Linked DNA regions of Homo sapiens. The protein of the gene in region 1 purifies or fractionates together with the protein of each later gene. This does not show direct contact. Each region holds a gene or a part of one and is shown in the gene's direction. Other genes may lie near its edges.

Region 1 (3,908 bases):
AAGCGATTCTCTGCCTCAGCGTCCCAAGTAGCTGGGATTACAGGTGCCTGCCACCATGCCGGGCTAATTTTTTTATTATTATTTTTAGTAGAGACAGGGTTTCATCATCTTGGCCAGGCTTGTCTTGAACTCCTGACCTCGTGATCCACCCGCCTCAGCCTCCCAAAGTGCTGGGATTACAGGTGTGAGCCACCACACCCGGCCTCGTATTACTACTCTTATAATGGTCCTTTGTCCTGGTTTGAGGATTAATTCACCAATGTCCCTTACCCTCTGTGTCCCTTCCAGGGAGCAGAACCATGTGTACCTGGGTGACAAGAATGCCCTGAACCTCACTTTCCATGCCCAGAATGTGGGTGAGGGTGGCGCCTATGAGGCTGAGCTTCGGGTCACCGCCCCTCCAGAGGCTGAGTACTCAGGACTCGTCAGACACCCAGGGGTGAGATGAGACTCTCGAGTGGGATTTGGGAGGATACCCCTCTAGAGGGGACACCAAAACCTGACCAGTGCCCACCCCATCTCCAGAACTTCTCCAGCCTGAGCTGTGACTACTTTGCCGTGAACCAGAGCCGCCTGCTGGTGTGTGACCTGGGCAACCCCATGAAGGCAGGAGCCAGTGTAAGTTTGGGATGAAAGAGGATGGGACAGAGGGAGAGCAGACCTGAGGGCGGTAACCAGCCAGCCGAGAGCACAGCTGTGAGGTGCGGAGGGAGGGTGAAATACACAGTCTAACTGCCCTCTTTTCCTCTTTTTCTGTCCCCAGCTGTGGGGTGGCCTTCGGTTTACAGTCCCTCATCTCCGGGACACTAAGAAAACCATCCAGTTTGACTTCCAGATCCTCAGGTAGGGAGTGAGTGTGTCTAGGCTGGGGCTGAGCTGGGGACGGAAGGGAGGGCTGGGCGCCATTCTCACTGGCTGCACTCCAGCACCTCAGTCTTGCCTCCATCCCACAGCAAGAATCTCAACAACTCGCAAAGCGACGTGGTTTCCTTTCGGCTCTCCGTGGAGGCTCAGGCCCAGGTCACCCTGAACGGGTCAGTGCCAGGCAAAATGGGGTCTTTCTGAGAGGGGACACAGACTTCTAGGGAAGGATGCATATGGGGTTCCTTCCACCCTCCTCTAAACCACCCTCCTCCTTAGTGTCTCCAAGCCTGAGGCAGTGCTATTCCCAGTAAGCGACTGGCATCCCCGAGACCAGCCTCAGAAGGAGGAGGACCTGGGACCTGCTGTCCACCATGTCTATGAGGTAAGGGGGGAAGGGGCAGGGCCAGAATGAATGATGGGAAAGGAGGAGCTAATATGAGTGACAGATGGCTGGAACCCATGTGAGGGACTGAGAGAAAGAGAGGAGGGAGGAGTAAGTGATATGCAAAGGCATGAGGCAGAGTCCTGTGAGAAACAGCCAGAGGAGAGACAGGCCAATTGAGTGGCTTGGAAAGAAAGATGGAGCCCCCTCCAAAAGTGTTGGCTAGAGAGGATTTCACCTCTGCCCATTGCTTCCCTGCTTCATCTCTGAGATAGGAGCCTGACAGCAGGGTATAGTGGAGCCATGGTGATCCAGGGTCTCAATGGGGCAGAAGCATTCCCTTCCTTCTCATGATGATTGTGCTCTTCCCTCCTCAGCTCATCAACCAAGGCCCCAGCTCCATTAGCCAGGGTGTGCTGGAACTCAGCTGTCCCCAGGCTCTGGAAGGTCAGCAGCTCCTATATGTGACCAGAGTTACGGGACTCAACTGCACCACCAATCACCCCATTAACCCAAAGGGCCTGGAGGTGAGATCCTGAACACTGGCATGGGGAAGAGGAGCAGATTCAGAGGACCAAGGCTGAGGGGTTGGGGAAGGTTGCTGGGGGCCTGCAAGAGGCAATGAGGATGTGCCTATAGCTAGGGTTGAGGGTCACAAGGCCCAAAGTTACCTCAAAATCCTCTGGAGGAAAAAGGACTTTCATCCACTGTGTTTCTTTCTGCCTGAACTATCCCTTCTTTGTTTCCCGGCATACCCCTAGGGCCCAGTTATGTGCCACCTCCTCTAGGAAGCCTTCTTCAAACCTTTTCCTCTGGGCCCGAATGCCTGTTTTATAGTTCATTTACTCATTAACATCTAATTAAATAAGTGACTGTACTGAACACTGTTAGGCCCAGGAAATATTGCACCAAACAGAACTGACAAGGTCTCCACGTTCATGGAACTTACATTCTAGTGAAGGGTGATAGACATAGAAAAGAAAAAGAGAAGGAGAAAAATTAACAGGGATTGAAAGGTGATGAAGTGAAGAGTTAATAAGCTGTAGGGACACTATTTAAATTGGATCATAGAAAAACCTCTTGAAGACGTCACAGCTGAACTGAGGCCTGAAAGATAAGGTTGAACCTGTCTATAAGACTCAGGGATGAGCATTCCAAACCAAGGGAACATCCAGTGCAAAAACAGGAACACAGACCTAATTATTTACTTAAGCATCTCCTCCAGTGTGATCTCCAAGAACCAAGTTTTCCTCATTTCCATATTTTAACCCTGAGCTCAGTGCCTTGCGCATAGGAGGTGGACAGTTGGATGAATCAATAAAGAGATAGATGAAAGAATAGGTTGAAGCTGCTCTGGAACCCAGGTGCAAGCTGACTTAGAAGCTGTAATGAGATGGGAAAGGGGCCCAACACTTTCTTTTATAGTTGGATCCCGAGGGTTCCCTGCACCACCAGCAAAAACGGGAAGCTCCAAGCCGCAGCTCTGCTTCCTCGGGACCTCAGATCCTGGTAAGTCAGGCAGGGAATGAGGTGTGGACCAAAGTGTTGAGTACTCTGGGGTTCTCAGGGCCATCACAAGGGCAGAACACCAGGTTCAAGCTTCTTTCTTCCTAGAAATGCCCGGAGGCTGAGTGTTTCAGGCTGCGCTGTGAGCTCGGGCCCCTGCACCAACAAGAGAGCCAAAGTCTGCAGTTGCATTTCCGAGTCTGGGCCAAGACTTTCTTGCAGGTGAGGGAGCCTTACCTCAGCCCTGACCCCTGACCTTTGGGCCTGCTTAGACTGACCCACCCCTTTCTCCACTGCAGTAGCCACCTCTCCTTTGGTGAATGGGACCCAGCACTCCAGCTCCCCTTCCTTGCCCTTGTCTAGACCAGGCTGTATGTCCTTGGCGCCATCTAGTGGCCACAGTGGGAGCAGCAGCTTCCCTTTCCTGGCCCATTCAGAGGAGGGAGGGCTGGAGGGAGACCAGTGTGCAAAGAATGATAGAAAAACAGTAAGATGGAAGATGAATCCATAGTGGAGAGGTAAACACATGTAGGAATAGTAAAGAGCAGTCACTTCTTGAGCACACACTGCAGGCTAGGCACTGTCCTGGTGTCAAAGCACATTAATAATTTTAAAAAAATTTTTATTGAACACGTAGTCATCTAATTATATATTATCAAGTTACAATTATTCAGTTACACATTTATTATCTCATATAAGGAACATCAAGAGAAGCTCACGGGCCAGGCACAGTGGCTCACACCAGTAATCCCAGCACTTTGGGAGGCCAAGGTTGGCGGATCCCTTGAGCCCAGAAGTTTGAGACCAGCCTGGGCAACATGGCAAAACTCCACTTCTACAAAAACAAAACAAAACAAAAATTAGCTGGGCATGATGGCACATGCCTGTAGTCTCAGCTACTTGGGAGGCTGAGGCAGGAGGATTGCTTGAGCCCAGGAGGTGGAGGTTGCAGTGACCTAAGCCCACACCACTGCACTCCAGCCTGGGGGACAGAGTGAGACCTAGTCTCAAAAAAAAAAAAAAAAAAAAAAGAGAGAGAGAGAGAGAGAGACTCAGGAAGAATGAGCCCAAAATAGGGAAAGATCACAACCCCAGCCAGACGATGGGGAACCCTATGTCCTCTGGATCCCAAGAGAGGATGTGCTAACCAACTTTC
Region 2 (3,908 bases), on another chromosome or scaffold:
GCAGATGTGCTTTGATGGGAATGATGAGTGGCCAGGACCCTGATTCCCTTCAGAGCCACACTACTAGGGGGTCAGGCTGTGCGTTGGTCCGTTGGTCAGGAGCTATCACAGGAACCCTCCATCACTTTCTGGCCTTGTTTGTTAGTCACAGGATGAGCATGGCTGGCTCTCCGGTGACATCAGAAAGCTTTCCAAAATCCTCAGTTCTGACTGTCCCCCAGGCTCTAACATCTCCACCCCAGCATCCTCTTCGGGGCACTGAGCACTGCTGGTCACCCAACAGACATGGAACTGCCTCACTCCAAGGCAGATCATCCCTCCATGGGCAGCTCTGGACAGCTCTGACTACAGGAAAGTTAGCCAGTCCTTCCTCAAAGGTAGTGTGCCATGACCAGAAGAATATGATTAGCCTACTCCTCTGCATAGGGTTAAAATAAAATACCTTATGCCCCCACCTAAGCTTCCACCTGCTCATCCTGGTTTGGGGCCCTGCATGTTTCTCCACAAGACACACGTGTGCTCCTTTTAAAATCGTCTCCTCTTTTCTCTGAATTACGGGAGGACCAAGATACACGAGGTCTCTTGCTACATGATTTCACTCGGGAATTCTTAGAGGTAGGCTCCACCAGATACGATGACCAGGACCTTGAGGATTTTAAAACTCATTTAGCATTGCAGCCCTCAAAGCTGACGGGAAAATTATAATTCATCTAGCAAATGTTCCTGTAGTGTTTTGGGGTGCCATTCATTTAATGGAGGGTGGGTGTGTTGAACATCCTGCCCTCACCCCTTCAGACCCGCTCCTTCTCCACCGGCCCCCATGTTCCAGGAGGCTGTCCCACACGGGCTCCCTCAATGGGCTCAGCTCCCTTGCCAGTGGCTTCGAGTTGAAGGGGGCTGGGTTTGCCTAATAGGAGGCACCAGAATGATTCAAAGACGGGAGGAAAGGGAGTCAGGTATTTATTCTCCCTCCCATGTCCCCGCCGTTGCCATGGGTTGGCTCTGAGACCCTCCAGTGAGGGCCACAGCTCCTAAGAGACAGCTCCCTCTGCCAGTCTCCAGTTCTCACCCCCGCAGGCTCCCTTCAAGCCTAGGGTGGTCACAGCCCCCTCTGAGTCGCCAGCCCTAGGGTGTGACACCGGCCTTTGTTAGTTCTGCAGAACTCTGCCGGCATGTCCGTAGTCTTAAAAAACTCTCCTTAAATTAAGTTGGAGTGTGTTCTGTTCCCTGCCAGGAACTCTACTGGAAAAAGCATTCTAGAGAGATGACAAGGCAGTAGGTAAAGGAGGTGGGACCTCCCAGCCCTGCATGGTGGAAATGTAGGAGTGGGGCTGGATTGGCGTCGAGAATGGACGAGCTTTCCATATTAAGCCAAGGGGTATGAAATCGCTGGTTCTCTATGTAGGTCTCCGTAGCCCCACGTTCCCATCCTAACGCATCTCTCCTCTCTTCCAGAAAGCTCCTGCTGCTTCTGTACCCCGCCTGTCCCTCCCAGCTGCGCAGGGCCCCTTCGTGGGATCATCAGCCCGAAGACAGGGATGGAGAGGCCTCTGTGCTCCCACCTCTGCAGCTGCCTGGCTATGCTGGCCCTCCTGTCCCCCCTGAGCCTGGCACAGTATGACAGCTGGCCCCATTACCCCGAGTACTTCCAGCAACCGGCTCCTGAGTATCACCAGCCCCAGGCCCCCGCCAACGTGGCCAAGATTCAGCTGCGCCTGGCTGGGCAGAAGAGGAAGCACAGCGAGGGCCGGGTGGAGGTGTACTATGATGGCCAGTGGGGCACCGTGTGCGATGACGACTTCTCCATCCACGCTGCCCACGTCGTCTGCCGGGAGCTGGGCTACGTGGAGGCCAAGTCCTGGACTGCCAGCTCCTCCTACGGCAAGGGAGAAGGTAAACGCTCTGTGCTTTGGATCTGAGTGCTGTCACCTGGCAAGGCCCGGAGTGGCCTTCCCTGAGGTCAGCCTGGGAGAGGAGGCTGCACGCACTGCGAAGTGTAAATTCTTGGTGATGCCCATCCAGGGACTGGCATCCTTCTGTGCCCACTCAGGCTGCACCCTGCAGGAAGGCGGGGTCGGGGGGCTTGAGGAGGGGCACAGTAAGTGACCAACCATACTGATTTGCCCAAGACTTTCCTGGCTTTAGCACAGAAAGTCTCACATCCTGGGAAAACCTCAGGAAAACCAGGACAGTTGGTGACCCCAGGTAGGGGGTGAAATCGGCCTGTGCTCCTCTCTCCGCCCCATATGCCCTGCCTGGGGGCTGCGTCAGCCCAGAGGAAGTTGCGCTTTACTCCAAATCGTTCCCTGTTAGGAAAGCCTCTTGCTCTTCCTCACAATGGCTCCCACATGCTGGAGCTCCCTGACGCCCCCCACCTTCCTGGCATGTGGAGTTCATCGTTTTCACACTAACCTGCTATTGTGGGCTTGGTCACAATAGGCACACAGATGCTTTGGGTTTTTCACCGTTGGTTAGCCTATTCTTTCCTCCCTTGTGAGGTTCAAATTTATTAGTTTATTTTTAAAAATTGTTTTAAGAGCTGGCCAGGCGCAGTGGCTCATACCTGTAATCCCAGCACTTTGGGAGACGGAGGCGGGATGATCACTTGAGGTCAGGAGTTCGAGACCAGCCTGGCCAACATGGGGAAACCCCATCTCTACTAAAAATACAAAAATTAGCCGGGCATGGTGGCGAGTGTCTGTAGTCCCAGCTACTCAGGAGGCTAAGGCACAAAAATCGCTTGAACCCGGGAGGCGGAGGCTGCAGTGAGCCGTGATCGCGCCACTGCACTCCAGCCTGGGTGACAGAGCGAGACTCCATCTCAAAAAAACAAAAAACAAAACAAAAACCCAAAAAATTGCTTTAACAGCTTTGAGGCAGGACAAAGTTTGAAGCCCTGAACCTAGAGCTCAGTCTGTACTGACCTCTGACACCACACTTTGTAGGAAGACGCATGTCCTCTCCAGCCTCATTTTCCCCATCTGGAAGTTGGGCTAAGAACCCCTGAAACCCTGACAGTGTATGTTCCCAAATAGGAAAGAGATAAGGGTGGAGGGAATTGTTTCTTTTTAAACATTTTTCCAGGAGCTAAGAGTTTCCTATCTCTGGGTCAGCCAGGCAAAGGAAGCTCCCACACCCTCCCGCCCGGCTGAGCTGCAGCCCAGACCTCAGCACAAGTCTGGCTACTGGACTAAAGCAGAGCTGCCTATACTCCTGTCCTGGACTAAAGGGCTAATGCCATGCTGACTGCGTAAGAATCGCCCAAGGGAGCTTAAAAGTACAGAATAGCGCAGACCTCAACCCACCATAATCTAGTTTAAAAGGTCTGGGCTGGAGCCCAGGACTCTGTCTCTTTTGGAAGTCTGCAAAGTGACAGGTTTGGGAGTCATTGAAATTGATAACTGTTATCCTCCCTTCCAACTTTTCTGTTATTCTAGAAATTATAGGAGAAAGGAAGTCCCATCTCATACACATCTCACCTCCATGCAATTGAAAATTTCCTTTTGGGGTAACTGGATCAGGAGACAGCACAGAGTCAAATGTTCTCTGCAGCTTGCTCTGGGCGATGAGAGCCACAGCAGTGAAGTTAGCAAATGCTGGGCTTTAGAACCCACTTCCTGTCTTCTTTAAACAAACGTCCGATACTTCCACATCTCTGTTTATCCGGCTGGCTGAGCGATCCAGGGGTAACCTCAGATTCATGTTTTCCATTCCAGGCTTTCCAACGCTCATTATTTTATAACAAATGCTTTCCAGTGACTGGGTATTTTTCCAGTGACAACTTAATTTTATTTCAACCTCAATTTAAAACACCTGTTGTCAGACAAGGGGGTTGTGGTTTTTCCCTATCAGGAGCAGGCACGGGGTAGTAGGAGACAGGTTTTTACCCAGGTGGGACTTTGCCATCC
Region 3 (3,908 bases), on another chromosome or scaffold:
TTTCCACTTATTCTTTCGAGTCAGTGCAATCATCGTCTATCTTCTCTGTGGGTTGCTCAGCAGCAGCTTTATTACCTGTATGGTGACAATTATCTTGTTGTTGTCGTGTGACTTTTGGGCAGTGAAGGTAATTTTGATTGTTTTTATTTTAAAATTATATTTAATATGAAAATGATGTATAAAAATATGAGTTAGCATTTTGCATTATTGTTAATCTTTTGTTACTTCAAACCTCATCTGTGTTGAAGTGCTAGATATATCAAATTGCATGTAGTTTTTTTTTTTTTTTTTTTTTTTTTCATTTTTTCCCTTTGACAATACAAGATGAGACATGCAGGTTACTGTGCTGCTGATTTTTCTGTGCCATATTCTAACCTACATCAGCTTTAAAGTCAAATAAACAAACAAAAGTGACTAGCAACCATAGACCCTACAATGTTGCTTCTAATCCATACCATGGGTTTTGCTTCAGGCTTACCTGTAGGTGTGTTGTATATAATTTCTAGATAAGGCCCCAGTGTAGTTTGTCCACAAATACCTAAAAAATACCTACCTTTTGAAAAGGCTCCTATGGATGCTTTAAGGCAGTGTTTCTCAACCAGAGACAAGCTTGCCACCCACTGAATATTTGTCAGTGTCCAAAAATGTTTTTGGTTGTCATGACTGGAGGTGGGAGGAGTGTGCTATTGACATCTAGTGGCTAGAGGGCAGGTATGCTGCTAAATATCCTAACACACAGGACGGCCCCTCTGCAACAAAGAACTACCTGACCCAAAATGTCAGTTGTGCCAAGGTTGAGACACCCTGCTGTAGGGGATAGAAAGAAGTGTAAGAAATGGTTTCAAACTCAAGAACAATGATTAGAGAGATGGATGGATGGATAGATAGGTACATAATAAATAGATAAGTAAGCATAATAAAATATTAAATATGGACTCTAGATGATAGATATTTGGGTATTCACTGTAAAATTTAACTGTGTGTGTTCGAAAATATAGTAAAATAGTGGAGAAAAAAATCAAAGGCTGATTTTGGAGTTTCAGAGACACATACTGATTCAAAGACTAGTAAGATGTTACAACCCTATTCACACCCACCAATGTAGCCATTTTTAGATCTTTTAATTCTTTTTTTTTTGAGACGGAGTTTCACTTTTGTTGCCCAGGCTGGAGTGCAATGGCATGATCTTGGCTCACCGCAACCTCTGCCTCCTGGGTTCAGGTGATTCTCCTGCCTCAGACTCCCGAGTAGCTGGGATTACAGGCATGCACCACCACGCCTGGCTAATTTTTTTGTATTTTTAGTACAGACGGGGTTTCTCCATGTTGGTCAGGCTGGTCTCGAACTTCTGACCTCAAGGGATCTGCCCACCTCAGCCTCCCAAAGTGCTGGGATTACAGGCGTGAGCCACTGCGCCTGGCCATCTTTTAATTCTTAAAGATACCTGAAGTGGTTGGCTTGGTGATGGCCAGTTTCCATAGGCCGCATAATGCTGAGAAGGAAGATTTCAAAGGTCTGTTTTCTTTAGGTTTTTCTGTTGTCCAGTCTTCTTTGGCTTGCATTTCTTTGAATTTCTTCTGTTACTTTATGCTCCAAAGTATTTAGTACATACTGCTCACAGTTTTGATACACGTTTCTTTTTGTTGTTCATAAAATTTCTGTTCAGCCAAATAGAACATGCTTTCCAGTCAGTTCTTCCTGGTAATTTCCAAACTCTTAAAATTTTTCTGGGTTTAGAGTTTTAAAAAATGCGATCAAAATAGTTTATTTTCTGATAAGGTTTATTTGTTTATTTTTGTTTTTAAACAAGGGCTTAAAAAATGGCACCCTTTTATCCTTGGCAAAACTACTTATAGATAGCAAAGCAATGGAGATATAAAGCAAAATTAAGAAGTCAAGAATAGGGAAATTATTAAGTGGACTTGGGATAAGCAGGGTTCTGAAACAGTTAAAATAGAGATGTGTCGTAATTGTTATAAATCTCAATGTACTTACTAAAAAAACAAAAAATCAATCTTCATCTAAACCCCTAGGTGTCCAATCTTTTGGTTTCCCTGGGCCACAGTGGAAGAAAGAATTATCTTGGGCCACACATAAAATACACTAACATTAGCTGATGAGCTTAAAAAAAAAATCGCACACAAAAAAATCTCATAATGTTTTAAGAAAGTTTACAAATTTCTCCTGGGCCGCATTCAAAGCTGTCCTGGGCAGCATGAGGCCTGTGGGCAGAGGGTTGGATAGGCTTGCCCTAGGTGATGTTAATGAAGATAAAGAAGAGGTAGAGAAGGGAAAATAATTTAAAGGTATGCTTAAATGCTAAAGCTTATATTGGTTTTTATTTTATTCTTCACTCTGACAAATTGAGTAAAAAAGGTTAAATAATGGTTTTAAAAATTTAATGGCAACTATGGCTGGGCGCGGTGGCTCACACCTATAATCCCAGCACTTTGGGAGGCTGAGGCGGGTGGATCATGAGGTCAGGAGATCGAGACCATCCTGGCTAACATGGTGAAACCCCATCTCTGCTAAAAAAAAAAAAAAAAAAAAAATGAGCCGGGCGTGGTGGCAGGTGCCTGTAGTCCCAGCTATTCAGGAGGCTGAGGCAGGAGGCGGAGCTTGCAGTGAGCCGAGATTGCGCCACTGCACTCTAGCCTGGGCAACAGAGCAAGACTCCATCTCAAAAAAAAAAAAAAAAATAATGGCAACTATTAGTAAAATTTAAAACCAGTCGTGTATCTTCTGCAACATTGGAGAAGATGGAGCAAGTAAAACAGTTCATAGAGCAAAAGAAGGAAAACAAAGCAACTGTCAAGGAAGCTTAAATCAGAAAGTACATGTATAAAGTGATGTAAGTAATAGCAAATTCATTATAATAGGAAATGTAATTTGATTAAACTACCCATTTAAAGACAAGAATACTAAGATTGGTCAGAAATCAAAGTCCAAACAAAAGATCTAACAACATTAATGACATTAGAAAAAATAAAAGAAGGCAAAGATAACATCAGATCAACTCAAACAAAAAGAAACTTGGCATTGTATTATTATCAGATGAGATATGGATCAGAGTAAGAAAGCACTAAGAGGAACAGAAAAAGGTGATTTTATGAATCACAGTGAAGATCATTCACAGAGTAAAATTATATCAAACTATGTATAGTAAAAAAATTGGAAATATTAGAAAATAGAAAAGCATTATGATGAGTTTAACAAACTACTATCTTTAACAAACCAAAGTGCCAAAAAATAAATAAGTTCTGAAGGATCTGAATGAAATAATTGGCAACATCAATTTGATAGCAGTATTTGGGACTTTGTATGACAGAATACTTTCTTGTTAAATGCCTGTGGGGCATTTACAAAAATTGACTAAATATCACTGTGAAGAAAATCAAAATAAAATTGCCCAAAGCACCTACATTTTCTACTCCAATGAAACAGAACTAGAAATTAATAGAAAGTAGTTGTCGAAATTGGAATTCTTTTTAAAAAGCGAACTACTACATATCTTGGGTTTAAAAGGAAGCAAAAACTGTAAATATAGGTTATTTATACCTTAATGGTGATCATTTACAGTTAAACTTTCTGAATATGTCAAAAACTGAATTCAGAGGGAAAATAATAGACTAAAGCCTTTTATTTTAGACAAGAAAGAGGGAAAATAATGGACTACTTGAGTCCAGAAATTTCAAAAACAAGCAATAAGCGTGAGAAATCAGGAAAATAAACTAATAAAGATAAAAGCAGGAAATAAAGAGTTAGAAAATGGGAACACAGAAGAGTTTGAAAGTATTCTGAGAGCATTCTTTGAAAATACCTATAGAAGAGACCTCTGGTTTAGGTCTCCCTTGCCAGCTCTTTTTTTTTTTTTTACTTAGCATCTCTCCCATAGGAATTTTGGTCTC
Region 4 (3,908 bases), on another chromosome or scaffold:
AGATTTTATGGTAGGCTGATAACCAATGCTCTGTTACTAATCTGCCTGGCTTCAAAGAGCACAGAAGGTGGAACTGCTGACCTCCCCCTGCCAGAGCGGAAGTCCTTCCCTTGAACATATTCATGGATGTGCAACTACAAAGCGGTTATCTAATTCGCCAAGCTCTTGGCATGTTCTTCACTCCATTAAAGGAGTAATCCTGGAGCTTTTCCCACTTACGAGTAGTTTGTCATATTTCCCTCTAACCCAGATTTGTCCTTAAAGAGTGGAGCTGAGTGAGATGTGGTCCAGGCTGGGGACCTCCACAGGGTCTACTCTCTATGTTTATCCCTCAACAAAAAGGTCTGATCTTGCTTTGGCATCCTTGATAGCATTCTAGAAACACAGTAGAATATTTCTATTATGATATACTGACAAAACCAGTGGGGTCAGGCTCCAACTGATATTTTAGATTTGAAAATTCAGTTGAAGGCTGTGTGCAGTGACTCATACCTGTAATCAATCCCAGCACTTTGGGAGGGCAAGGCGGGTGGATCACGAGGTCAGGAGATCAAGGCCATCCTGGCCAACATGGTGAAACCCCGTCTCTACTAAAACTACAAAAATTAGCTGGGCGTAGTTATGCGTGTCTGTAATCTCCACTACTTGGGAGGCTGAGGCAGGAGAATCGCTTGAACCTGGGAGTCAGAGGTTGCAGTGAGCTGAGATTGTGCCACTGCACTCCAGCCTGGCAACAGAGCGAGACTCTGTCTGGGGAAAAAAAAATCACTTGAACTATTTTTTATTTGTATGAGCAGGAGGAGTTCTGGGTAGGCATTAATTCTGTGCTACCATAGTTGGTCCTCTCAACAATCCTAAAAAAAAGACATGACTATCCCATTTTTGCTGTGAGCAACTGAGGCACAGAGGCTGTTCTGCCTGTCCTGTGCTGCTGCTTTTGCTCTGTAGAAAACTGCGGAGTGAAACACCACCATCGAGTACAGAAGGTTGAGTTTCCAGAACGACCATGATGTAGCTAAACCTGGCTCTCTCAGCTTGCTCCTCCCAGAGATTGAGCCTCCTGAACTTGGCACAGGAAGTCCAAATCTCTGAAGAGTCAAGTGTAAATAAATTATGGCCTGTGAGATGTGTTCAGTTTTGTTGTGTGCAACTCATCTGGGGCATGTGATTCCTCATCCTAACCCCAGCCCAGTGCTGATTGCCTTTGCGATCTTAGTAAGTTCCAGAGCCTCTGTGCAGCAGATGTTCCGCCAGCCACACAGGGCAGCTGTGATCCTGCGGAGTTGGCTTGCTGGCCTTATTCTGTCAACTGCCCATCCTGGTAGATCACAACCCTTGGGTCAGGCACATAAGGAGTTGGAAAGGAGCGTAAAGGCTTTGAAACTGAGAAACTGAGATCCTTGCATTGCTAACACCACATTTAAGACAAGCAGCTCTATTCCAGAGTGATGGCAGTTTGCCTTTTTGTCTATTGATGGAAAATTCCATCAGCACATCCCCGTGTCATCATCATTCGGGGATGCTCTTGCAGGGCAGGAAAGAGCACATAGGAGGAACTGCAGGAGGGCCCATTTGTCTTTGAACTTCAGAAGTGAGGAGGTGTTTATGTCTCAGCTGGGCGTGTTTAGGTTTTGGCAACGTGGATGGGTTAGTAATGCCGTGCTTTCTCCTTTTGTTGCAGCTGGTCCTTCGGGGTGTTAATGTGGGAGATCTTCACTTTAGGGGGCTCGCCCTACCCAGGGATTCCCGTGGAGGAACTTTTTAAGCTGCTGAAGGAAGGACACAGAATGGATAAGCCAGCCAACTGCACCAACGAACTGTAAGGGCTGTTGTCTTTCCTGCCGGTGCCCCAGTGGACTTGCCACACCAGTAATACCTCTCCTGATGTATCTCGTTTTTGAAGGCCCCTGGTTTCCTAAACATGCTCTAAGAAGAATGGCTGAAGCTCTCTGGGCTCAATCCAGAGCTGGGATACATAGCGACACCGACAACCATTACTTGTCTGAGAGAAAGAACATTATTCTGAGTATGGAGAGGGCTTTGGATCAGAGGGTGTCTGGCTGCCTGGCTGAGGGCTCCTGACTTTGCAGAGCCAGCAGGAGTGGTCTTCCTGGGCCACTGTGCTGCACCTTCTGCGGTCTCCCGTGGAGTGACAGGAAGACCCACGGGTCAGGAAACAAGCTAGAAAGCCGCGGGGCCGCCCTGCAGGGTGTAGGATTAAGGAACCAACACAGCCTTTCCCTGGTGGTTGTGCCTGGCCCCCGCCTGGCCCCATCGTGGCCAGTAGAGAATCGGTGTTTCCAGAACTTCTCGAACCATTGAAAATTGCCATTACAGATTGACGCCAACCACATTTCCTCAGAGCGAAGGAACTCGTGTTTGGTTACCTAGGTCTCACTTGTGTTTTAGTGCAGAGAATTAAACATGTGTCCAGGCGCCCTCCTTACTGTACCAGATCTGCCTGTAAAACCATGAACTGGTTTGTAGCAAAACCTGCCTCACACTTTAAGTGGAGTTATGTTGTGTTTGTGACGTGTGCCTGGTGCAATAGAATCAGTGCTTTGAAAGGAGTCTCTCTGCCTCCTGCCTCAACCCCTCCAGGATTAACTAAGAAGAGTGATTGTCCCAGAAACTGCGGTCTATTGTGTATCATTTCATGGGGATTTTATATCAGTAATCCCGTGAGTGCTTTTCGGTGTACCGTGGATGTCTGATGAATGGCCACATTTTATAGCATATTATATAAAGGCATTTATTGTGCTCTTTGTCATTCCTATTGTTTTTTTTCTTTTGTAACGTAGAGGATCTGTCGAAACCCAAAATCAAGATAAGACCTGGGAAGCTAAGCCTATCTAAGAGTTAATCAGGAAGTTAGTGTGCAGCCCAGTGGTGGCAGATTAATTCATCAAAAACTTGAAGTTGTAGTTTTCAAATTTTATTTAATTTTTTTTTAACTCAGGAAGCTGTGTCAACTAGAATCATTAAGACCCAAAGCACCGGGCAGATAAATAGTGGAGCTGCTTTGGTGCTGGGCAGGGTGTCAGGGGAGGGAAGACTGGAGACCAGCCCATGGAAATACGCATTTTCCTTCAGCCTCCAAAGCATCTTTAGGGTGTGACGCCATTGTGAGATGTCACTGTGGCCCAGGGTTACCAGGGAAAACACATAGCTGTGTCTTTCTTGATGGCTTCGATGCCTTTCTAACATGTTTTTGTAAGTCAAAGTGCCTTTCGGAGGAACTGGCAGGGAAGCTTTTGGGAAAGTGATTCATGACCCCCTAATCTAGTTGCTTGGAAGGTTCTGATGCATTTTCCTAATTTACACCACGTCCCCATATTGCCTATTAAAACTGACTATAACCACGTACCCAGTGCATATGAAATTAATTCAAGGAAATCCATTTTTCCCAGGTACATGATGATGAGGGACTGTTGGCATGCAGTGCCCTCCCAGAGACCAACGTTCAAGCAGTTGGTAGAAGACTTGGATCGAATTCTCACTCTCACAACCAATGAGGTAAGAACTTCCTTCTAGAAGCCCCTTGTCCTTGGTTGTCTTGTGAGACATGCGTAGTGTTTTACACACACACTCCCCTGTTGGCTGTTGGTTGGAGTCTGTGGTCTTGTTTATTCTTTTTCCATAGGGTCAGATAGTTCAACTATGGGTTCCTCTCAAATCATGATTTTTCTCAGAACTTCATTTTGTGAGTTCTGACTCATGAAACCAAAGACAGAGGGACATCCCCGAGGCTGCCTTCAGTGTAGCTGCTGGTGGAGCAGTCCGGGGTATGTGGGAGAGTGGGAAAGGGGAAGCAGTATTCACTTGCATTTTGGTGTGCATGGGAAAAAGCTTGGATTCCTGTGCAAGTTTGATTCTGTGCTTTGGTCATTAGTGGGTAAACTGATAAT

Evidence for each region. Proteins that work in one complex are often made in the same cells at the same time.
Region 2: the proteins of ITGA5 (region 1) and LOXL2 purify together in Homo sapiens (affinity purification with western blotting, with the first as the bait; one study listed by BioGRID). This does not show direct contact.
Region 3: the proteins of ITGA5 (region 1) and TVP23B fractionate together in Homo sapiens (co-fractionation; one large-scale study listed by BioGRID). This does not show direct contact.
Region 4: the proteins of ITGA5 (region 1) and FGFR2 purify together in Homo sapiens (affinity purification with western blotting; one study listed by BioGRID). This does not show direct contact.

The regions. Positions count from the first base shown.
Region 1 is NC_000012.12:54,398,711-54,402,618, reverse strand, and holds part of ITGA5 (integrin alpha-5 precursor), read left to right. Parts: intron 1-288; coding exon 289-439; intron 440-525; coding exon 526-618; intron 619-763; coding exon 764-843; intron 844-953; coding exon 954-1,034; intron 1,035-1,140; coding exon 1,141-1,246; intron 1,247-1,623; coding exon 1,624-1,773; intron 1,774-2,671; coding exon 2,672-2,755; intron 2,756-2,860; coding exon 2,861-2,974; intron 2,975-3,908.
Region 2 is NC_000008.11:23,365,982-23,369,889, reverse strand, and holds part of LOXL2 (lysyl oxidase homolog 2 precursor), read left to right. Parts: intron 1-1,455; 5' UTR 1,456-1,538; coding exon 1,539-1,893; intron 1,894-3,764; exon of another isoform or gene 3,765-3,908. UniProt on the Homo sapiens protein: Mediates the post-translational oxidative deamination of lysine residues on target proteins leading to the formation of deaminated lysine (allysine).
Region 3 is NC_000017.11:18,790,914-18,794,821, forward strand, and holds part of TVP23B (Golgi apparatus membrane protein TVP23 homolog B), read left to right. Parts: coding exon 1-127; intron 128-3,908.
Region 4 is NC_000010.11:121,483,306-121,487,213, reverse strand, and holds part of FGFR2 (fibroblast growth factor receptor 2 isoform 1 precursor), read left to right. Parts: intron 1-1,681; coding exon 1,682-1,819; intron 1,820-3,410; coding exon 3,411-3,516; intron 3,517-3,908. UniProt on the Homo sapiens protein: Tyrosine-protein kinase that acts as a cell-surface receptor for fibroblast growth factors and plays an essential role in the regulation of cell proliferation, differentiation, migration and apoptosis, and in the regulation of embryonic development.